Linked DNA regions of Homo sapiens. The protein of the gene in region 1 purifies or fractionates together with the protein of each later gene. This does not show direct contact. Each region holds a gene or a part of one and is shown in the gene's direction. Other genes may lie near its edges.

What was found.
Region 2: the proteins of REEP5 (region 1) and SCAMP4 purify together in Homo sapiens (affinity purification with mass spectrometry; 3 studies listed by BioGRID and IntAct, with this or other methods). This does not show direct contact.
Region 3: the proteins of REEP5 (region 1) and RETREG3 purify together in Homo sapiens (affinity purification with mass spectrometry; 4 studies listed by BioGRID and IntAct, with this or other methods). This does not show direct contact.

Annotation. Positions count from the first base shown.
Region 1 is NC_000005.10:112,877,228-112,884,227, reverse strand, and holds part of REEP5 (receptor expression-enhancing protein 5), read left to right. Parts: intron 1-5,392; coding exon 5,393-5,442; 3' UTR 5,443-7,000. UniProt on the Homo sapiens protein: Plays an essential role in heart function and development by regulating the organization and function of the sarcoplasmic reticulum in cardiomyocytes.
Region 2 is NC_000019.10:1,915,389-1,922,422, forward strand, and holds part of SCAMP4 (secretory carrier-associated membrane protein 4), read left to right. Parts: intron 1-2,305; coding exon 2,306-2,434; intron 2,435-2,738; coding exon 2,739-2,895; intron 2,896-3,500; coding exon 3,501-3,602; intron 3,603-7,034. UniProt on the Homo sapiens protein: Probably involved in membrane protein trafficking.
Region 3 is NC_000017.11:42,578,991-42,585,384, reverse strand, and holds the end of RETREG3 (reticulophagy regulator 3), read left to right. Parts: intron 1-122; coding exon 123-260; intron 261-1,804; coding exon 1,805-1,887; intron 1,888-2,578; coding exon 2,579-2,711; intron 2,712-3,114; coding exon 3,115-3,572; 3' UTR 3,573-5,870; downstream 5,871-6,394. UniProt on the Homo sapiens protein: Endoplasmic reticulum (ER)-anchored autophagy regulator which exists in an inactive state under basal conditions but is activated following cellular stress.

The DNA of each region.
Region 1 (7,000 bases):
AATGCCTTATAGGCCATTGTAAAGGTTTGGCTTCTACTCTATGTGAGATGTGGAGGTACTGGGGACTTTTAACCACAGAAGCAAAATGATCTGTCCTGTGTTTTAATAAGATGCCTGTGGCCACTGTATTAGGAACAGACTGAAGGGGTAAGGCAGGAAGTTGGGAGAACAGTTAAAAGGTTCTTGCAGTGATCTGGCTGGAGGTGATGATGGTGGCTTGGTTCCTTGTGTAGCAGTAGGGGGTAAGAAGTATCAGATTCTTGATATATTTCAAAGGTAGAAGTAATGGGATTTGCTTATGGATTGGCTTATGGATTGGGCATGGGTCAGAGGGGTTAAGGACAAGGACGAGCTTTTTAGCCTGAACAGATGGAAGGATAAAATTGCCACTGAGCTGGAGAAGACTGGGTAGAACAGGTTTTGTTGGGGTGGGAGGTTGTGGTGGGTGGGAGGATATGGAATTTAGTCCTGGACATTTGTTTGAGGTGTCTGTTTGTTAGATACCTACAAGGATTAGTCAAATAGCTAGTTGGATACAGGTGTCAAGAGTTCAAGAAACAGGTCTGGACTGGAGATATAAATTTGGGGGCCACAAGCTTATACATATTAAGCATGAGACTAGATGAGATCACGAAGGTAGTGTAGTTAGGAAACAGGAGGTCCAAAGACTGAACGCTGGGGAGTCTAAGGTTTAGAGACTGGAGAGATGAGAAGCAACTAGCAAAGCAGACTGATAAGGAGTGGCCAATTGAGGTAGCAAGAAAACCATGAGCGTGTGGTATCCCTGGGGCCAAGAACAGAAAGTTTTTCTTTCAGAGAGGAGAAGTGATCTGTCATGTTACATGCTGTCAACAGGTCAAGTAAGATAAGGACTGAGAACTGAGCAGATTTAGCAATGAGGAAGGTACTAGTGATTTTGATAACACAGATTTTGTGGAGTGATATCAAACTCCTGATTGCAATGGATTTGAGAGAATGAGAGAAAAGGGATGAGAGAATATAGATCTTTCTTTTGAGAAATTTCCTGCAAAGGAGAGCAGAAGAATGGGGCTATAACTGGAAGAAGGAATTATGGTCCTGAAATTTTAAAAGTTTTTTTCTTAAGGTAGGAGAAACAAAGCCTGTTTGAAAATTAATGGGAATAATTCAACAGAGCAAAAAATGATGATAGGAGTGAGAGGGTGAATTGTTGGAGCTCTGTCCTTGACCAGTGAAGGATCCAGTATACAGTAGAGGGATTGGTCGAAGAGCTGGAAGTTTATGGTAACAGCAGGGAAATCAGGTTTTATGGTATGCTGTGAGCACATGTGACTATGGGAGCCTACAGAAGTGACTTTCTAATTGTTTCATATTTCTCAGTAAAGTAGGAAGGCCAATTGAGAGAGGATGGGGAAGGAGACAATGGAAAGAGAAGGTATGAAATAGTTGCGAAGGAGAGGGACTGCTCATCTTTTTCTGTAAAGGGCCAGATAACAAATGTTTTAAATTTCGTGGGCTATCATGTCTCTGTTGCAGCTACTCTTCTCTGCCATTGTAGTGTGAAAACAGCCATGGACACTACATAAGCGAGTTTGGCTGCAGTGTGCTGGCCCCTCTAGGACAGTTGGAGAGTAAATGGACTGTCAGGCAGTGTTAAAGGCATGCTTGAGATTTGCGTTCATGAATTTATAGTGAAACCAGTTCTTGTTTATGTTTTTCTCCAGCCATACTCAGCTACATGGGTATAGCTACAGAGTAGGTGGAGAGTTGTGTCAAGGTTGTGATTTCCAGCAAGAACTATGAAGTGAGGGTGGGACTGTGGAGTGGTTAATGCTTGACAATGGAATTTAACCTGAGTAAGGTGGGAAGTGGTGGTGGAAGAACTCTGAATCAGGATAATAGCGGGAATACTCCATCATCATCTACAATGAGCAAAAAAGCAGGGTGGGGAGTGCACTACAAAGATAAAAGGTGATGGTGGCTGAGTGGGATGCTTGATACAAGATTATGGAGGGACTGCAGTATTGGTACTAACAGGGATCCTGGGAGTCAGTGCCATATGTAGGGTGGAATATAAGGGTTATTGGAGGGGAGGAACTAAGAGGTCAGGATATTAGAAGATCATCACATATGTCTACATGGATATTAAAATCATCAATAATTAAAATAGGAGTAGTAGGTCAGGTGCAGTGCTCACACCTGTAATCACAGCACTTCCAGAGGTCAAGGTGGGTGGATTGCTTGAGCTCAGGTGTTTGAGACCAGCCTGAGTAACATGGTGAAACCCAGTCTCTACAAAAAAAAAAAAACACAAAAATTAGCCAGATGTGGTGATGCGTACCAGTAGTCCCAGCTACTCAGGAGGCTGAGATGGGAGGATCACCTGAGCCTGGAGGTTGAGGCTGCAGTGAGCTGAGATGGCATCACTGCATTCCAGCCTGGGTGACAGAGTGAGACCCTGTCTCTAAATAAATAAATAATAGGAGTAGTGTTAGAAAGGAACATTAAGTTAGGAGCTAAAATCTTCAAGAACTAAGGCAAAGTAGCCCAAGAGTCAGGGATGACAGGGAAAGGGAAGGCTACTCAGTGATAGAATCTGATGACATGAGATTCTGAAAGTGGCAATGAAGAACAAAAACAACACCTACCAGATCCATTTGTACTAGGGTCATGAGAGGAAAGAAACAGCCACCACTTGAGAAAGCAGTGTCCTCAGGGCACAGCCAGCTTTCTCTAAGAGCAAGAAGGTAAAGGAAACATTCGGAGGAATGGATGAGGATATAGATTTTGCCAGTGATGGGTCTTGAGTTCCAGAGGGACTCAGATTTTAGAAATTGGAGAAAGGTTTTTGTGTTTTAGAGCTCTGTGGTAGTTAGACATGGGAGTTGTGAGGTTGCCTGACCATGGGGAAGTAAAATCCCAAGACAGTTCTCCAGCAGCACTGATGCCCCAGAAGTGGTATGTTCCCCATTTCTCCCTCACAGACCTCTCTTCTCTGGACTCCTATTTTTGGGCATACAAATCCAGTCTACTTGAATATGTTTTAGGTATTTTTTAACTTGTAGCCTTAACCTCCTCCCACTTTAGGATTGCCAGCTTTTTTTTTTTTTTTTTTTTTTTGAAACAGAGTCTCACTCTGTTGCCCAGGCTGGAGTGCAGTAGCATGATCTCAGCTCACTGCAGCCTCCACCTTCCAGGTTCAAGGGATTCTGCTGCCTCAGCCTCCCAAGTAGCTGTGATTACAGGTGTGGGCCACCACGCCCAGCTGATACTTGTATTTTTAGTAGAGACACCGTTATGCCATGTTGGCCAGGCTGGTTTCAAACTCCTGGCCTCAAGTGATCCACCCACCTCGGCCTCTCAAAATGCTGGGATTACAGGCATGAGCCACCATGCCCAGCCAGGATTACCAGCTTATTTTTAAGAGCTTTCTTTTCTTCTCCCTTCCCTTAGCCTAATCAGCAACCTGTGGTGATGTCATTTCTGTCTACTTCACCCACATTTCTTAGCCTCTTGGTTCTCTTAGATATCAATACTTAAAATCCAATCTTACTTTGTTATGACACATTCCTAAATAGGGGCAAGAGAATTAAAATAAGTTAGGAGGAATTTACATGCTGCCACATTTTAGACTTTTCTCAAAGCTTTTGGATTAACTAGGAATTTCTACAAAGGGTTAGTTAAGGGAAGGACTACATTTTCTCCTTTGCTGTGAACTTGGTTCAGTAATTTTAACTGAGCAAAGGGAGAGCAACTATCAGGCAGCTGGTGGACAAGAAGGGACTCCTTGGCTCTCATCACTAAGGCTCTGGCTCCATCAAGAACAGCTGCAGATTGTAAAATCTCACAGTGGGCCCTGGAGGCTTCTAGACAACCCCTTTCCCCTCCATCTTACACACTGTACTGGTTCTCATAGCACATTCCCTGCCACTTGGTAATTAGAAAGTGGAAGGCTTGGTCTCCTGCAGAAGTAAGAAAATATATTTTTCTTTTTTTTCTATAGAGATGGGCTCTCACTGTGTTTTGGCCAGGGTGATCTCAAACTCCTGGCTTCAAGGAATACTCCTACCTCAGCCTCTCAAAGCTCTGGGATTATAGACATGAGCCACCACACCTGGACAGAATGTTTTCTTGATGAATGTAGTGTCTTGTCACCAACTCAAAGACTTAGAGCAAACTCTTCTCATCATAGGAGAGAATGGTGGCACAATAAGAGTATAAATACAGATTTTAAAAACAATTTAGTATAACAACAATTTATATAGCATTCATGTTGCATTAGGTACTTTAACTAGAGATGGGCTTTTAAAATTTTTTTAAAATAGAGGTGGGGGGTGGGGGTCTCACCATTCATATTGGCCAGGCTGGTCTCAAATTCCTGGCTTCAAGCGATCTTCCCACCTCAGCCTCCCAAAGTGCTGCGATTACAGGCATGAGTCATTATGCCTGGCCGAATTTAAAGTATATGGAAGAGGCCGGGCATGGTGGCTTACGTCTGTAATCCCAGCACTTTGGGAGGCCAAGGCGGGCAGATCACGAGGTCAGGAAATTGAGACCATCCTGGCTAACACAGTGAAACCCCATCTCTACTAAAAATACAAAAAAAAATTAGCTGGGCGTGGTGGTGAGTGCATGTAGTCCCAGCTACTCGGGAGGCTGAGGCAGGAGAATGGCATGAACCCGGGAGGCAGAGCCTGTAGTGAGCCGAGATCGCGCCACTGCACTCCAGGCTGGGTGACAGAGCGAGACTCCGTCTCAAAAAATAAATAAGTAAATAAATAAAGTATATGAAAGCACATAGGTTATATGGAAATACTATGTATGCCATTCTATTTAAGGGCTTGAGCACTCACAGATTTTGGTATCTGTAGGGTTCCTGGAACTAATCTCCTCTCCCCCACCGCCCCCCCAGCCCCCCCCCCCAAACACATATATCAAGGGATGACTGTATTTCTAGTGCTGGGAATGAGGACTTCTCTGATTTGTCGCCATGGGATAAATATGATGACCTAGTTGTCATCAGATTGATAATATATTGATAAGTGAAATCTTACAGGCAAGCACACAGATACAAATAGAATTTGAACACTACTCTTAAGGAATCTCTGCTTCTTTCAATGCTTAAAGGAGAATAGAGGGCAGACAGTTTCGGTGACACTGTCACAACAAGGGGCTAGGCTAGATGACCTTCAAGTATTTTGCTCAAGTATTTAGGATTTGTGCTCTAAGAGGTACCTTCTCCATTTCCTGGAAACCCTCTTAGCCCAGACCACAAACCCCAACATGATCGCACCTGAACATGAGTCATCCAAGTTTTGTTATCTAGTAGCTACATTAGGCACAAAGCTTGCAAGCTTGCATTCCAAAGAAAGAGCTTTGATATATTTTTCTTTCCCTCCTAACAAACAAACAGCGAAGAAAGCTACCGTGAATTTACTGGGTGAAGAAAAGAAGAGCACCTAAACCAGACTGGATGGAAACTTCCTGCCCTCTCTGTACCTTCCTACTGGAGCTTGATGTTATATTAGGGACTGTGGTATAATTATTTTAATAATGTTGCCTTGGAAACATTTTTGAGATATTAAAGATTGGAATGTGTTGTAAGTTTCTTTGCTTACTTTTACTGTCTATATATATAGGGAGCACTTTAAACTTAATGCAGTGGGCAGTGTCCACGTTTTTGGAAAATGTATTTTGCCTCTGGGTAGGAAAAGATGTATGTTGCTATCCTGCAGGAAATATAAACTTAAAATAAAATTATATACCCCACAGGCTGTGTACTTTACTGGGCTCTCCCTGCACGCATTTTCTCTGTAGTTACATTTAGGATAATCTTTATGGTTCTACTTCCTGTAATGTACAATTTTATATAATTCTGAAATGTTTTTAATGTATTTGTGCACATGTACATATGGAAATGTTACTGTCTGACTACAACATGCATCATGCTCATGGGGAGGGAGCAGGGGAAGGTTGTATGTGTCATTTATAACTTCTGTACAGTAAGACCACCTGCCAAAAGCTGGAGGAACCATTGTGCTGGTGTGGTCTACTAAATAATACTTTAGGAAATACGTGATTAATATGCAAGTGAACAAAGTGAGAAATGAAATCGAATGGAGATTGGCCTGGTTGTTTCCGTAGTATATGGCATATGAATACCAGGATAGCTTTATAAAGCAGTTAGTTAGTTAGTTACTCACTCTAGTGATAAATCGGGAAATTTACACACACACACACACACACACACACACACACACACACACAGAGTAACCTGTAACTCTCAATTCCCTGAAAAACTAGTAATACTGTCTTATCTGCTATAAACTTTACATATTTGTCTATTGTCAAGATGCTACAATGGAAACCATTTCTGGTTTTATCTTCAAAGCGGAGAAACATGTTGATTTAGTCTTCTTTCCCAATCTTCTTTTTTAAACCAGTTTAAGGAACTTCTGAAGATTTGTCCACCTCTGATTACATGTATGTTCTTGTTTGTATCATTAGCAACAACATGCTAATGACGACACCTAGCTCTAAGAGCAATTCTGGGAGAATGAAAGGAAGTATAAAGTAACCCATAATCTGCTTGGCAATAGTTAAGTCAATCTATCTTCAGTTTTTCTCTGGCCTTTAAGGTCAAACACAAGAGGCTTCCCTAGTTTACAAGTCAGAGTCACTTGTAGTCCATTTAAATGCCCTCATCCGTATTCTTTGTGTTGATAAGCTGCACATGACTACATAGTAAGTACAGAACAGTAAAGTTAAAACGGATGTCTCCATTGATCTGCCAAATCGTTATAGAGAGCAATTTGTCTGGACTAGAAAATCTGAGTTTTACACCATACTGTTAAGAGTCCTTTTGAATTAAACTCGACTAAAACAAGTGTATAACTAAACTAACAAGATTAAATATCCAGCCAGTACAGTATTTTTTAAGGCAAATAAAGATGATTAGCTCACCTTGAGATAACAATCAGGTAAGATCATAACAATGTCTCATGATGTAAAAAATATTAAA
Region 2 (7,034 bases), on another chromosome or scaffold:
GACAGGGCCTCTTGCTGTCTGACTCCCCATCTGGCCCTCGCAGGCGCCCAGGGACACTTCCTCAGGCAGTGCTGGCTGAGCAGAAGCTCCTGGGGGGCTCCCAGTGCCACGCTGAGTGCCCCAAAGGCTGTGTTCCCATCTTGATCCCTGGAACCTGTGAGTGGGACCTCATTTGGGAATATGGCCTTAACTCCGGACGTGATGGAGTTAAGATAAAGTACTGGAGCAGGGCGAGCTCTCATCCCAGTGCCTGCTGTGTTTATAAGAAGAGATGGAGGCCGGGCACGGTGGCTCACGCCTGTAATCCCAGCACTTTGGGAGGCCGAGGCGGGTGGATCACGAGGTCAGGAGATCGAGACCATCCTGGCTAACACGGTGAAACCCCGTCTCTACTAAAAATACAAAAAATTAGCTGGGCGTGGTGGCGGGTGCCTGTAGTCCCAGCTACTCGAGAGGCTGAGGCAGGAGAATGGTGTGAACCCGGGAGGCGGAGCTTGCAGTGAGCGAGATCGGGCCACTGCACTCCAGCCTGGGTGACAGAGCGAGACTGTCTCAGAAAAAAAAAAAAGAGATGGTCCGGGCGTGGTGGCTCACGCCTGTAATCCCAGCACTTTTGGGAGGCCGAGGTGGGCAGATGATGAGGTCAGGAGTTTGAGACCAGCCTGGACAGCATAGTGAAACCCCATCCCTACTAAAAATATTAGCTGGGCATGGTGGCACAGCACCTGTAGTCCCAGCTACTTGGGAGGCTGAGGCAGGAGAATCGCTTGAACCTGGGAGGCGGAGTTGTGGTGAGCCGAGATCACGCCACTGCACTCCAGCCTGGGTGACAGAGTGAGACTGGATCTCAAAAAAAAAAAAAAGACATGGAGATACAGGAGGAGTCGTCGTGGAGATGGAGGCAGAGGCCAGAGCTATGCGGCCATGAGCCAAGGGCGCTGGGATCCCCCAGAAGCTGCTTGAGAGAGGCAGGAAGGCTCCTTCCCCGGAGCCTGCAGAGGGAGCGCGTTCCTGAGACACCTTGATCTCAGATTTCTGGCCTCCAGGACTGTTAGCAGATAAATATTTGTTGTGTTCTTTGTTTTGTTTTGAGACAGGGTCTGGGTCTCTCCCAGGCTGGAGTGCAGTGGTGTGATCATAGCTCACTGCAGCTTTAACTTCCTGGGTTCAAGCGATCCTCCTGCCTCAGCCTCCCGAGAAGCTGGGACCACAGGCACGCACCACCACGCTTGGCTAATTTTTGTAGTTTTTGTAGAGTTGGGGTCTCGCTAGGTTGCCAGGCTGATCTGGAACTCCTGGGCTCCAGCAGCCCTCCTGCCTCAGCCTCCAAAAGTGCTGAGATCACAGGTGGGAGCCCCCACACCTGGGCAGTTTCTGTTGTTCTAAGCCTCCCAGTCGGTGGTGGTTTCTCACAGCAGCCATGGGGAACGGAAGCGTCCCCAGGCCACAGCCTCCCCGCAGTGTGCGGACTCGGCCTGCTGAGCCTGCATGTTGGCGTCCCTGCCTGCCGGAGGGAATGATACTAAATGCAGCCTGCTGCAGCCGCACCCACACTAAACATGGAGGAGGGCTACGAAGAGTAGCAGGGCCCTGCATGAAGGGTGACACGTAAATTTAAAAAACAATTTCGGCCGGGCGCGGTGGCTCACGCCTGTTATCCCAGCACTTTGGGAGGCAGAGGTGGGCGGATTATTTGAGGTCAGGAGTTCAAAACCAGCCTGGCCAACATGGTGAAACCTCGTGTCTACTAAAAAGAAAAATCCAAAAATTAGCCGGGTGTGGTGGTGGGCGCCTGTAATCCCAGCTACTTGGGAGGCTGAGGCAGAAGAATCACTTGAGCTTGGGAGGCAGAGGCTGCAGTGAGCCGAGATCGCACCACTGCCCTCTAGCCTGGGAGACAGCGCGAGACTCCGTCTCAAAAAAAGAGTCATAAACTTAGTTCCTTAAAACAGTGAAATCAGTTATCTGACAGTTCTGGAGACCAGAAACGCTAACATCAAGCTGTAGGCCGGTTCCCGCCTTGCCCAGCGTCTAGAGGCGCCCCCATCCCTCCACTCAGGGCCCCTTTCTCCCCCTTCACAGCCTCAGCGCAGCCTCTTCCCGTTTCTCTCTGACTCCCACCCTCCCGTCTCCTCTCGTGAGGCTGCCACGAGGACCCTCTCCTGTCTCAGCGTCCTGCCCTCAATCCCAACTGCAGAGTCCCTTCTGCCATGAGAGGCAACCCAGCCTTGGGTCGAAGGGATGAGGTGGGGCCTCCTTCAAGAGACAAAGTCTGGTTCTGTCCGTGGGTTCTCTGTCCCTACAGAAAAGGAGAACAACTTCCCGCCACTGCCCAAGTTCATCCCTGTGAAGCCCTGCTTCTACCAGAACTTCTCCGACGAGATCCCAGTGGAGCACCAGGTCCTGGTGAAGAGGATCTACCGGCTGTGGATGTGTGAGTGCGCCTGGGGGCAGGAGGCGGGAAGCGGGAGGCAGGGCTCCCCGAGGGAGGGAGTGGCATTCAGGCAGGGGCAGCCCGTCGGGGGCCCACCGTCTACTGAAGCCGTCCTGGGCCTGGTGGTCCCTGCGGTGAACGAGGCTGGTGTCCAGGCCCCAGTGTCTTGGCTTGCACAGTTCATCCTCGACATGGGGTCACTGGGCTGGGGAGGCGGACAGCGGGTGCCCCATTGCTGGGCCCATGCTTTCCCACGGCCACACCCTCCCGTGCCTGCTCATCCGTCCTCCCTCTCTCTTCGCAGTTTACTGCGCCACCCTCGGCGTCAACCTCATTGCCTGCCTGGCCTGGTGGATCGGCGGAGGCTCGGGGACCAACTTCGGCCTGGCCTTCGTGTGGCTGCTCCTGTTCACGCCTTGCGGCTACGTGTGCTGGTTCCGGCCTGTCTACAAGGCCTTCCGGTGAGCAGAGCTGCCGGGGGCCGTCTGCACCCAGAGGGAACCAGGGCCCACTCTGCACCCCAGTCCCAGCCCAGCTGTGAGGAGCTGTCCCTTTCTCTGCCCAGTGTGAAAGACAGTTCACATCTGGGGGTGGCAAACTGTGGCCCACAAGCCAGAGCCAACTACTGTCTGTTTTGTTTTGCTTTCTAGTAATTTTGGCTGGGTGCAGTGGCTCAGGCCTATAATCCCAGCACTTTGGGAGGCCGAGGCAGGCGGATCACCTGAGGTCAGGAGTTCAAGACCAGCCTGGCCAACATGGTGAAACGCTGTCTCTACTATAGGTACAAAAATTAGCCAGGCGTGGTTGCGGGCGCCTATAATCCCAGCTACTCAGGAGGCTGAGGCAAGAGAATCGCTTGAACCCGGGAGGCAGAGGTTGCAGTGAGCCGAGATCTCGACACTGCTCTCCAGCCTGGGCGACAGAGTGAGACTCCATCTCAAAAAAAAAAAAAAAGGAATAAAATAGAGCCTCCGCTCTCACCATCTCTGACTGGCCCGTTCCTCTCTAGGCGCGTCTGGGAGAAGCCAGGGCTGTGGTAACCGTCGTGTTTTCTGTCCCTCCCCAGAGCCGACAGCTCCTTTAATTTCATGGCGTTTTTCTTCATCTTCGGAGCCCAGTTTGTCCTGACCGTCATCCAGGCGATTGGCTTCTCCGGCTGGGGCGCGTGGTAAGCCTCTCTCTGATGGGCGTGGTGGCTGTGATGTGGCTCAGCTGCCAGGTTGTGGGCCTGCTGGGAAGCCAGGCGGCCACCGGAGCGTGCTGGTCCGGGATTGTACGCGCTCTCCTAGGGAGGGGTCTGAGCTCACCCTGGCAGCGCCCGCGTCCTCGCCAGCGCCCGCGTCCTCGCCAGCACCCAGCCATGGTTCGCGATTGTAGGCACTCTCCTAGGGAGGGGTCCGAGCTCGCCCTGGCAGTGCCTGCGTCCTCGCCAGCGCCCAGCCAGGCTTGTCTCCTGAGTGTTGATCACACCCCTGACCCGGGGTCTGGGAGCCAGTTCCTGGCTGCTGATGTTTCTGCACGGATCGCTGCAGGAGGAAGACCTGTACATCTGTAAAAACACACATACCTGGTGCTGTTACCACACCTGAGAAACTCACAGTCACTCTCTAAGGCTGCCAGGTGCCCAGAAGTGTTTGTGTTGGTGTCTTAAATTTCTGCCTTTTTTCTTTTCTTTTTTTTTTTTTTTTTTTTGAGACAGAGTCTTGCTCTGTCACCCAGGCTGGGGCGCAGTGGTGCAATCTCAGCTCACTGCAACCTCCACATCCTGGGTTCAAGCAATTCTCCTGCCTCAGCCTCCCGAGTAGCTGGGACTACAGGCGCCCGCCACCACGCCTGGCTAATTTCTTTTGTATTTTAGTAGAGACGGGGTTTCACCGTGTTGCCCAGGCTGGTATCGAACTCCCGAGCTCAGGCAATCCGCCTTTCTCAGCCTCCCAAAGTGCTAGGATTACAGGTGTGAGCCACTGCACCCGGCCCTTTTTTTAAACTATTATTATTTTTTTTTGAGATGGAGTCGCTCTCTGTCACTCAGGCTGGGGTGCAGTGACATGATCTTGGCTCACTGCAACCTTCACCTCCCAGGTTCAAGCGATTCTCCTGCCTCAGCCTCCCGAGTAGCTGGGACTACAGGTGTGTGCCCCCACACCCAGCAAATTTTTGTATTTTTAGTAAGAGACGGGGTTTCACCATGTGTTGGTCAGGCTGGTCTGAAACTCCTAACCTCGTGATCCACCCGCCTCGGCCTCCCAAAGTGCTGGGATTACAGGCGTGAGCCACTGTGCCTGGCCAAATTTGTGGCTTTTTAAATAGGCTTTTTATTTTGGAATAATTTGTAATTCTCAGTTGCAGAGAGTGACTGTTCTCGCCCACGTCCCCGACGTGTCTCCCTTGTCCTTGGCACGGCGGGAGCTCCCCACGGGTGACGCTGCTCACGGAGCCGTGGGTGCCTTTGGTTTCCTGGGCTCCCATTAGCAAGCTCCTGTTCTGGGGTTCCTGCCCCACAAGACTGCGGTACTCTCACGCCAGTGCACAGATCAGAATCCAGATAAGGTCCCAGGTTTCCTGGGATGGTGACTCCTCTCCCTTCAGGGCCCCTCGATCTGCAGGCCTCTCCCCTCCTGCACCTGCGCCTGGCGCCAGGCCCTCCAGGGTGGCTGGGATCTGTGGTTTGTGCACCCCTCGGATGTGCCGCTGAAGCTGGTCTGTCACCTGCCACCCCAAGAGCCTGAGTGACGTTGCCCCAGGGATCTGAGTTAGAGTCATAGTGAGCGTGTGCCTGGGACTCCCAGCTCTGCCAGCCTTTGGGGTGCTTCCCCCTCCTGCAGAGGCTGTGGCTGCAGGTCAAGGCACTGCTCGTCATCCTCCGAGTCCTCCTGAGCTCCCAGCTGCCAGCTCGGCTCCCACTGGCCCTTCCCTGGGCTCCAGTGCCTCCTGTGAGCCGCCTCCCCGGTGCGTCCCCAGCTCTCCCAGGCTGAGCTGGGTGGACAGGCCTGTGCCCGTGTTGGGTGGTCCTGAGATCCCGGCATGAGGTGAGTGCCCACATGTGACCCTCAGAGACCTCCCTGCCCCCTCGGCCCTCGTGCACGTGCGGCAGCAGCGACTTGGCTCTTCTCATTGGAGCCTGGGTCATCTCCCGCAGGTCACGGGAGAAGCTGAGCATGCGGTCCCTGCCCGAGGTGGACAGAAGGTGAACGCTCTTGAGAAAGAAACCCAGCGGGTCTTAGGAGAGCCCGGCCCCCCTTGTAATGAGAGAAATCAAACCACAGCGCACAGCGACTTCATGTCCACCGTTGGCTTAGTGAGGCCCCACGCTCAGTGCGCTGCTGTGGGGCGAGAGGGGACAGCCCCGCTCTCCCTGTCCTGGGCGGCTTCACCAGCGCCACCTCCCCACACACTCTGTGCACTGCTGTGGGGCAAGAGGCGACAGCCCCGCTCTCCCTGCCCCGGGCAGCTTCACCAGCGTCACCTCCCCAGGGGTGACGCATGCCCGAGGCCATGAGCCACGGCAGCATCTGTGGTGGCAGAGGACTGGAAACTCCAGAGAAATGACCCCCAGCGGGGCCTAGCTGTGTAGATGGTGAGGGTGGCCACATGGCGGCAGCCAGGTACTGAGGACACGGTGCAGCAGGGGCCCCCGGTGGGCCCCGCCAGGAATCGGACATCAGCGGGCGCCGCAGCCTCTAAGCGGAGCATGCAGCCCACTGACAGTGTGCTGGGTGCCTCCCTAGACCTGACACTTGCATGCGGGGGCGTGCGATGCTGGCCAGTGGGAAGCTGCGGGGGCGGCGGCAGGAGTCCTCAAATGCCTTTGCCGCTTTTCATAAATCTAAAATTACATCCAAACAGAGGTTTACTTTTTTAAAAAATAAAAGAGGCCAGGCATGGTGGCTGACGCCTGTAATCCCAGCGCTTTGGGAGGCCAAAGCAGGAGAATCACTGCTTGAGGCCAGGAGTTCAGACTGGCCTGGGCAACATAGGGAGAAACCATCTCTCCAGAAAAAAAAAAAGAGGAAGGAATGACCCAAAGACCATGCAGCCTGTGATGCTGTGGAGGCTCCAAGCAGGCGAACACAGGACAGGCCAGCATCTTGCAGGGACGCGGCGGGGGGTACCGCGTGTGCGTGCATATCACGCCCCGTGCATGTGTGTGCATAAGCTCCCCGGACACATCCGGGGGTGTGGGTCCTGCGGGCTGCCTGTGCACCAGGGAGGGGAGTCAGCAGGAGAGAGACTGTACGTCGTGCCTGCCTTTAAGTTCCCTGAATTTTAAACCCTGTGGTTTCATCACCTGTTAAGACAAAAATCTCAAAATGACTGTTTTCTGCCTCCTGGGTCTCAAAGGCAGGTGCAATGCCCAGAGGCTGGTCCTGCACAGAGGGACCCAGGGCGTGCTGGCCTTCCCAGTGTCCCACTGGTGGCTGATCTAAGCAGTGCTTTCCCTCGTTTTTTTATTTTGAGACAGAATCTTGCTCTGTCCCCCAGGCTGGAGAGCAACGGCACGATCTCGGCTCACTGCAGCCTCCCGCTTCAGCCTCCCAGATAGCTGGGATTACAGGCATGCGCCCTCATGCCTGGCTAATTTTTGTATTTTTAGTAGAGA
Region 3 (6,394 bases), on another chromosome or scaffold:
CTTGGGCAGATCTGTTCCACACTTTGTGTCCAAGCCCTAAGGACCAATAGCAGCGCTACAGTTGGGAATGTTTTTTGCAGCCCCTTCTCCATTTTGTCACTGTTTCCCATGCCTCCTCACAGTTGTCACTGTCATGATGTGGCCCCTTGCTGTGTACCACCGACTGTGGGATCGAGCATATGTGCGGCTGAAGCCAGCTCTGCAGCGGCTAGACTTCAGTGTCCGTGGCTACATGATGTCCAAGCAGAGAGAGAGACAATGTAAGTGTCATGGTGTCATTCTTTCCACTTACGCAATTTGGGGCGAAAAGGAGAAGCCCATAGGTCTGACATACTGGGTGGGTCCTCAAAAGTGGAAGTCGGGGGTAGTTGGTGGGGGTGAGGATTGATAGGTAAAAATGATATTCTGTTCTAGGGAAACCTGTGCAGGCTTGCCAGTTTTTATCATTTGTAATCCTAGGCTCCCGTTTTAAACCTATCTGATAAAAGCTCTTTCAAGTTGAATAAAAGCTAGACAGTGAAGATAAATTCCTAGTATTTGTGGTTTGTTTTTTTTTTTTTTTTTTTTTTGAGACAGGGTCTCATTCTGTTTCCCAGGCTGGAGTGCAGTGGCATGATCATGGCTCACTGCACCCTTGACCTCCCAGGCTCAAGTGATCCTTCTACTCAGCCCCGCCAAACCCTTCAGTAGCTGGGACTACAGGCATGTGTCACCACATCTATCTGATTTTTAAATTTTTTTGTAGAGATGGGGTCTCATGTTGCCCAGGCTGATCCTGAACTCCTGGGCTCAAGCGATCCTCCTGCCTTGGCGTTCCAAAGTGTTGGGATTACAGGTGTGAGCCACCGTGCTGAGCCCAGAGCAGATCCTTTCAACTCCTAAGCCTGGTCTCTTCACTAGTAAAAGCTGCCTCCCAAAGGTGATTAAAAACTGCTGCCTCAGAGGTTGTAAGTGTACTAGCCTGAGATCCATGCAACACAATGATGGTAGTACAAACTTTTCCCTCCCTTGTGTGGTCTTGTCAGGTTTTGTGTTTTATGGAGGCCTGGCCTTCAAAGAGCCCTGCACTTGGTCACCAAGGCCCAAGTCCCCTTGGGGCAGCCAGTTGAATAATACCAGTCCTCAAAAGTCTGATTTAACAAGGTGTGCATCTCCTTTTGCCCTCTCTTTGATCATGTCCACTTAACACCTTGACATTAGGTCTGCCTTTAGCCATCCAGAGAGTTGTTGACAAAGCCTGGTATTTGATCATCTGACCAGAATAGAAATGTGTGCCAGGCCGGGCGCAGTGGCTCACACTTGTAATCCCAGCACTTTTGGAGGCTGAGGTGGGCGGATCACCTTAGGTCAGGAGTTCGAGACCAGCTTGACCAATATGATGAAACCCCGTCTCTACTAAAAATACAAATATTAGCCAGGTGTGATGGTGAGCACCTGTAATCTCAGCTACTCAGGAGGCTGAGACAGGAGTATTGCTTGAATCCAAGAGGCAGAGGTTGCAGTGAGCCGAGATCGCGCCATTGCACTCCAGCCTGGGCAACAAGAACAAAACTCCATCTCAAAAGAAAAAAGAAATATGTAGGGTCTGGTGGAGAGGATGTTGGAAGCTGAGATATTTTCTCCAGTGTTTTCAACTCACCTTGCATTTAGGCTCAGCAGCTCAGCCTTCTGTTATTATTATGTAGGCTTAGAGCCAGATTCAGAGAGGCTCTTTGTTTTGTGTTCTGATTTTATGTCTTTAAAGTCCAAAGGGGATTTTACGCTGGGAGAAGGTATCAAGCAAGACTTTGTGCTCTTCCCACAGTACGCCGCAGAGCTCTCCACCCAGAACGAGCCATGGACAACCACAGTGACAGCGAAGAGGAGCTTGCTGCCTTCTGTCCTCAGGTATCTTGAGTGTGGGAGCTGCTTCACTGTCCAGTTTTCTTTAGCTACCTTTTAACCATCCGACAGCTCACATTTAGGCCATAACCAGGTTTGAGGCCTTAGACTCCCCTTGTTCCCAAGACAAGGAGAGAAGTGAGACTTTGTTCCTAGATCTCAATTTTTTTCTTTATCATATCATTCCTGTAATCAACCTAGGTCTCAATTAGAGCCTGATGCCCAGCACCGCTCTTCCGTATCTCTTTTTACCCTACCATTATGGAAGAACTTCTGGAGCTAGTATGATCATCTTTTAAACAGCCCAGTTCACCCTTGGGTCTGTGCAGTATGTGTATCCTCCTACCACTTTGAAAAATTATCTCTGGATCAATTATTTGCCTTAAAGTAAGTGGGTAATTGACTCCCCCAAGACTGCTTTTCTTCCTGTGCTTAAGAGGTTATGAATGAGTGTTTTCTTTGGGAGAGCAGCCTAAAAGGGGTCAAGATTTTTTTTGTTGTTGTTACTTTCACATGTATTGATTAAAAAAAAAATAAAGGGGAGAGGGAGTTTTCAACGGGAAGTTACCATCTATCCCTGGTTACATTGATTTGATGGCCTTCGGATAACTAATGCTAGCTGATTAGTAAAGCTGTACCTGGTGACTACACCTGGTTCCTGATGGCATTATCTCACATTTGTTGGTCTTTTCCTAAGCTGGACGATTCTACTGTTGCCAGGGAATTGGCCATCACAGACTCTGAGCACTCAGACGCTGAAGTCTCCTGTACAGACAATGGCACATTCAATCTTTCAAGGGGCCAAACACCTCTAACGGAAGGCTCTGAAGGTGAGGGGAGCCTTTGACCTCAGTTGATAATGGCTCTGACTGTTGCCTCTTAGCTTCCCTGAACAGAGGGGATACTGGTGCTTGCCCCTCTCCTGTTTTCTGAGCTATGGATCAGGCGGCAGAGCAGCCTGAGTGCTGTGGCTACAGCCAGGATGGCACTGCTGCCCTTCTTGAAGACTTTAGTCCCTTAGTAGCCTCAGGCACTAGCCTCACAGGGGACATAGAAGAGAGGGGGAATTGTGTAGAGATCACAGCCACCTATAAGTGGAGGGGAAAGGTATACCAGTCCCATGGGTTTATTTCGCCCTGAGAAAGCCAGGGTGGGAAAAATCTGGTCATGTGGGGCTGGGGCACAGGAGGGCCAGGTAGGTGCCATGACTCAGACACTTCTGTATTCCACCAGACCTAGATGGTCACAGTGATCCAGAGGAATCCTTTGCCAGAGACCTTCCAGACTTCCCTTCCATTAATATGGATCCTGCTGGCCTGGATGATGAGGACGACACTAGCATTGGCATGCCCAGCTTGATGTACCGTTCTCCGCCAGGGGCTGAGGAGCCCCAGGCCCCACCTGCCAGCCGGGACGAGGCTGCGCTGCCGGAGCTCCTGCTTGGTGCTCTTCCTGTAGGATCCAACCTCACCAGCAACCTTGCCAGCCTGGTCTCCCAGGGTATGATTCAGCTGGCCTTGTCAGGGGCCTCCCAACCAGGCCCTTCTGGAGCACCTGCCCAGAGAGCAACGAGAGGCTTCCTCCGGTCCCCCAGTTCAGACCTGGACACTGATGCTGAGGGGGATGACTTTGAACTTCTGGACCAGTCGGAGCTGAGTCAGCTGGACCCTGCCAGTTCTAGGAGCCACTGAGGCAGAGACTCCTTTTGGGAGTCACTGTGGTTTAGGTTTTTTTCTCCCCATCCCACTTAAGGTGATGGGGCAAGGGAAGAACTCAGCTCCCCTCCCCTGAATTATATTTGTATGCTGGGTGGCCTGGCTGATGCTCAGAGGCCTCCTTAGAGAGGACACTCACTCCCCTCCCACCAGCTGGATGCCCATTTCTGAGCTCAGTCACTGAAGTGAGAGTGTGCTCCCCCAAGGGAGGCTTCTCTCCATCAGGATGGTACTTTGGGGGAACAAAATAGTCAGGGATATTGGTTCCCCTTTGAGGAGGTGCTGCTGTTTGCTTTTAGGTATGAGTGCTCAGGGGCCCTCACTGAAAGAGCCCATGCCTGCCTTCCTCCTTTCATCGCCTCTCTAGAGCCCCCAAAGTCAGGCAGCAGCTGGAGTAGTTACATTGTCATCATCTTTTTTTTTGAGACAGTTTCGCTCTGTTGCCCAGGCTGGAGTGCAGTGGTGTGATCTTGGCTTTCTGCAACGTCTGCCTTCCAGGTTGAAGAGGTTCTCCTGCCTCAGCCTCCTTAGTAGTGGGATTACAGGTGCCCGCTACTATGCCCGGCTAATTTTTCTTTTGGTATTTTTAGTAGAAATGGGGTTTCACCATGTTGGCCAGGCTGGTCTCAAACTCCTGACCTCAAGTGAGCTGACTGCCTTGGCCTCCCAGAGTGCTGGGATTAGTCGTCATCTTTTGTTAAACCAGGATTTGATTTTTTTCTTTTCTTTTCTTTTCTTTTTTTTTTTTTTGAGACAGAGTCTCTCTCTGTTGCCCAGGCTGGAGTGCAGTGGCACAATCTCGGCTCACTGCAGCCTCCGCCTGCCGGGTCAAGCGATTCTCCTACCTCAGCCTCCTCAGTAGCTGAGATTACAGGCATGCACCACCATGCCCGGCTAATTTTTTTGTGTTTTTAGTAGAGATGGGGTTTCACCGTGCTGGCCAGGCTGGTCTAGAACTCCTGACTGCAAATGATCAGCCCGCCTCAGCCACCCAAAGTGTTGGGATTACAGGTGTGAGCCACTGTGCCCAGCGTGATTTTTTTTTTTTTTTAAAGCAAACTTGTCCTTTGGTTTTGCAGAACAGGCCTGCTCCCTCTCATCTAGCCCATCATTTCTTGGGGCCTGAACCCCAGTGGTCCAAAGTATTGCTTGTGAAATTTAAAAAATGTGAATATGATGTGGGGATGGGCCTCTTCTACATTACCTTGGCCCAGGGGGATCAGCTGGCTGGGAGGATTAGTGAGCACCTCTGTATTTTGAGGTCTGAGTCTTCTGGAGCTGTGTAGTTAATCTTCGGTTTCTGATAACCCCTGGGTCCATCTGGCCATCAGCCTCAGCAGTGAGCAAAGCAATACCATACTCATTTCTATGTTCCTGTTCCTTCCTCTGCTCCTCCTTTGGAGAAGCAATAATTCATGGGGGATGATACAGTAGCACTTTACAAATGGCTCCATGTCATTCATCCCAGGGGCCATAATCTCTTGCACCACCTATTCTTACTTCCTGTTCAGCTCCTTTACAGCTTTTATTTTCAACTGCTTCCCAACTTGGTGGGGCCTCCTTTAAGGATGAGCCAATAGTAAGAATGTGGCTGTAATCAGCAGAGACCCCTCTGAGGGGTATCTGTTCTGCAGCCCCTAGTGAAATCATGTGATGTGAGACAGAAACCTAAACATGGTACTTGATTCTAAACCTGTGCCAGTCTATAGCCTCTGCCTCCCCAAGCAGAGCTCAAGCCAAACGCTTCTGTCCTCTTTCCTTCTGCATTAACCCTTTGCTGATCCTCAGGGGCCACTCCCCCAACACCCCTGTACTTGGGTGAGGGATGTTGGACAGAGCCTGTTTTCATGTACTGCAGGTGGGGGTGTGCTGACATGTTTGCTCTTGGTTGATGGAGAAGGTACAGAGGCCAGGGAGTGAAAATGGTTGACAGAAGAGGGAAGAGTTAGGTGTCTCATAGTCACTCATAGTGGGGTGGTCAGGGGTAATGGCATCTCCCCACTTTAGGCTTCTCAAACAGACTTTTGACACCTCTCAAGTTCAGAGCTCTGATGTGGAAAGACAGGAGGTGTGGGGAAGGAGGGGGATTTCGTGTGTTTGCATGAGTGTGCGCTTCAGGCCTTGGGAGTTGGCAAGAGGGAGGGAAGGAAGGAGAGCAAAATCTTCGGAAGGTGTTTCTTGTACCTGAGGGATCCTGCCCTGAATCTCCATAGTCTCCACTGTGAACTGAGGAGGGGAGGGGTGTGCTGGGGAATAAATCTTGTATGAGAACAATCTTTAAGAGACTGATGCTGAATGGTGTCCTACCCTTGATAGGTCTTCTCTTGTAAATCTGAGTTCTGATTAATTTGAAGTGATAGCCTTAAAAGAGGAAGCCCAGGTATGAGGGACCCACCAGCCCACCCCTATTTTTACTTCGTGATGGCCAGAACATCACCATAGTATGAGGCTACTTTCCTTCTTGTGAGAGCCCCACCATCAGTATAACTGGCACTCTTGGCTAGTATTTAGCCTGTATTTCCTTCATTTCTAATTTCTTTTTTTTTCCTGAGACGGAGTCTTGGTCTGTCGCCCAGGCTGGAGTGCAGTGGTGCGATCTCTCACTGCAAGCTCCGCCTCCCGGGTTCACGCCATTCTCCTGCCTCAGCCTCCTGAGTAGCTTGGACTACAGGCGCCCACCAGCACGCCTGGCTAATTTTTTGTATTTTTAGTAGAGATGGGGTTTCACAGTGTTAGCCAGGATGGTCTCGATCTCCTGACCTCGTGATCCGCCCGCCCTGGCCTCCCAAAGTGCTGGG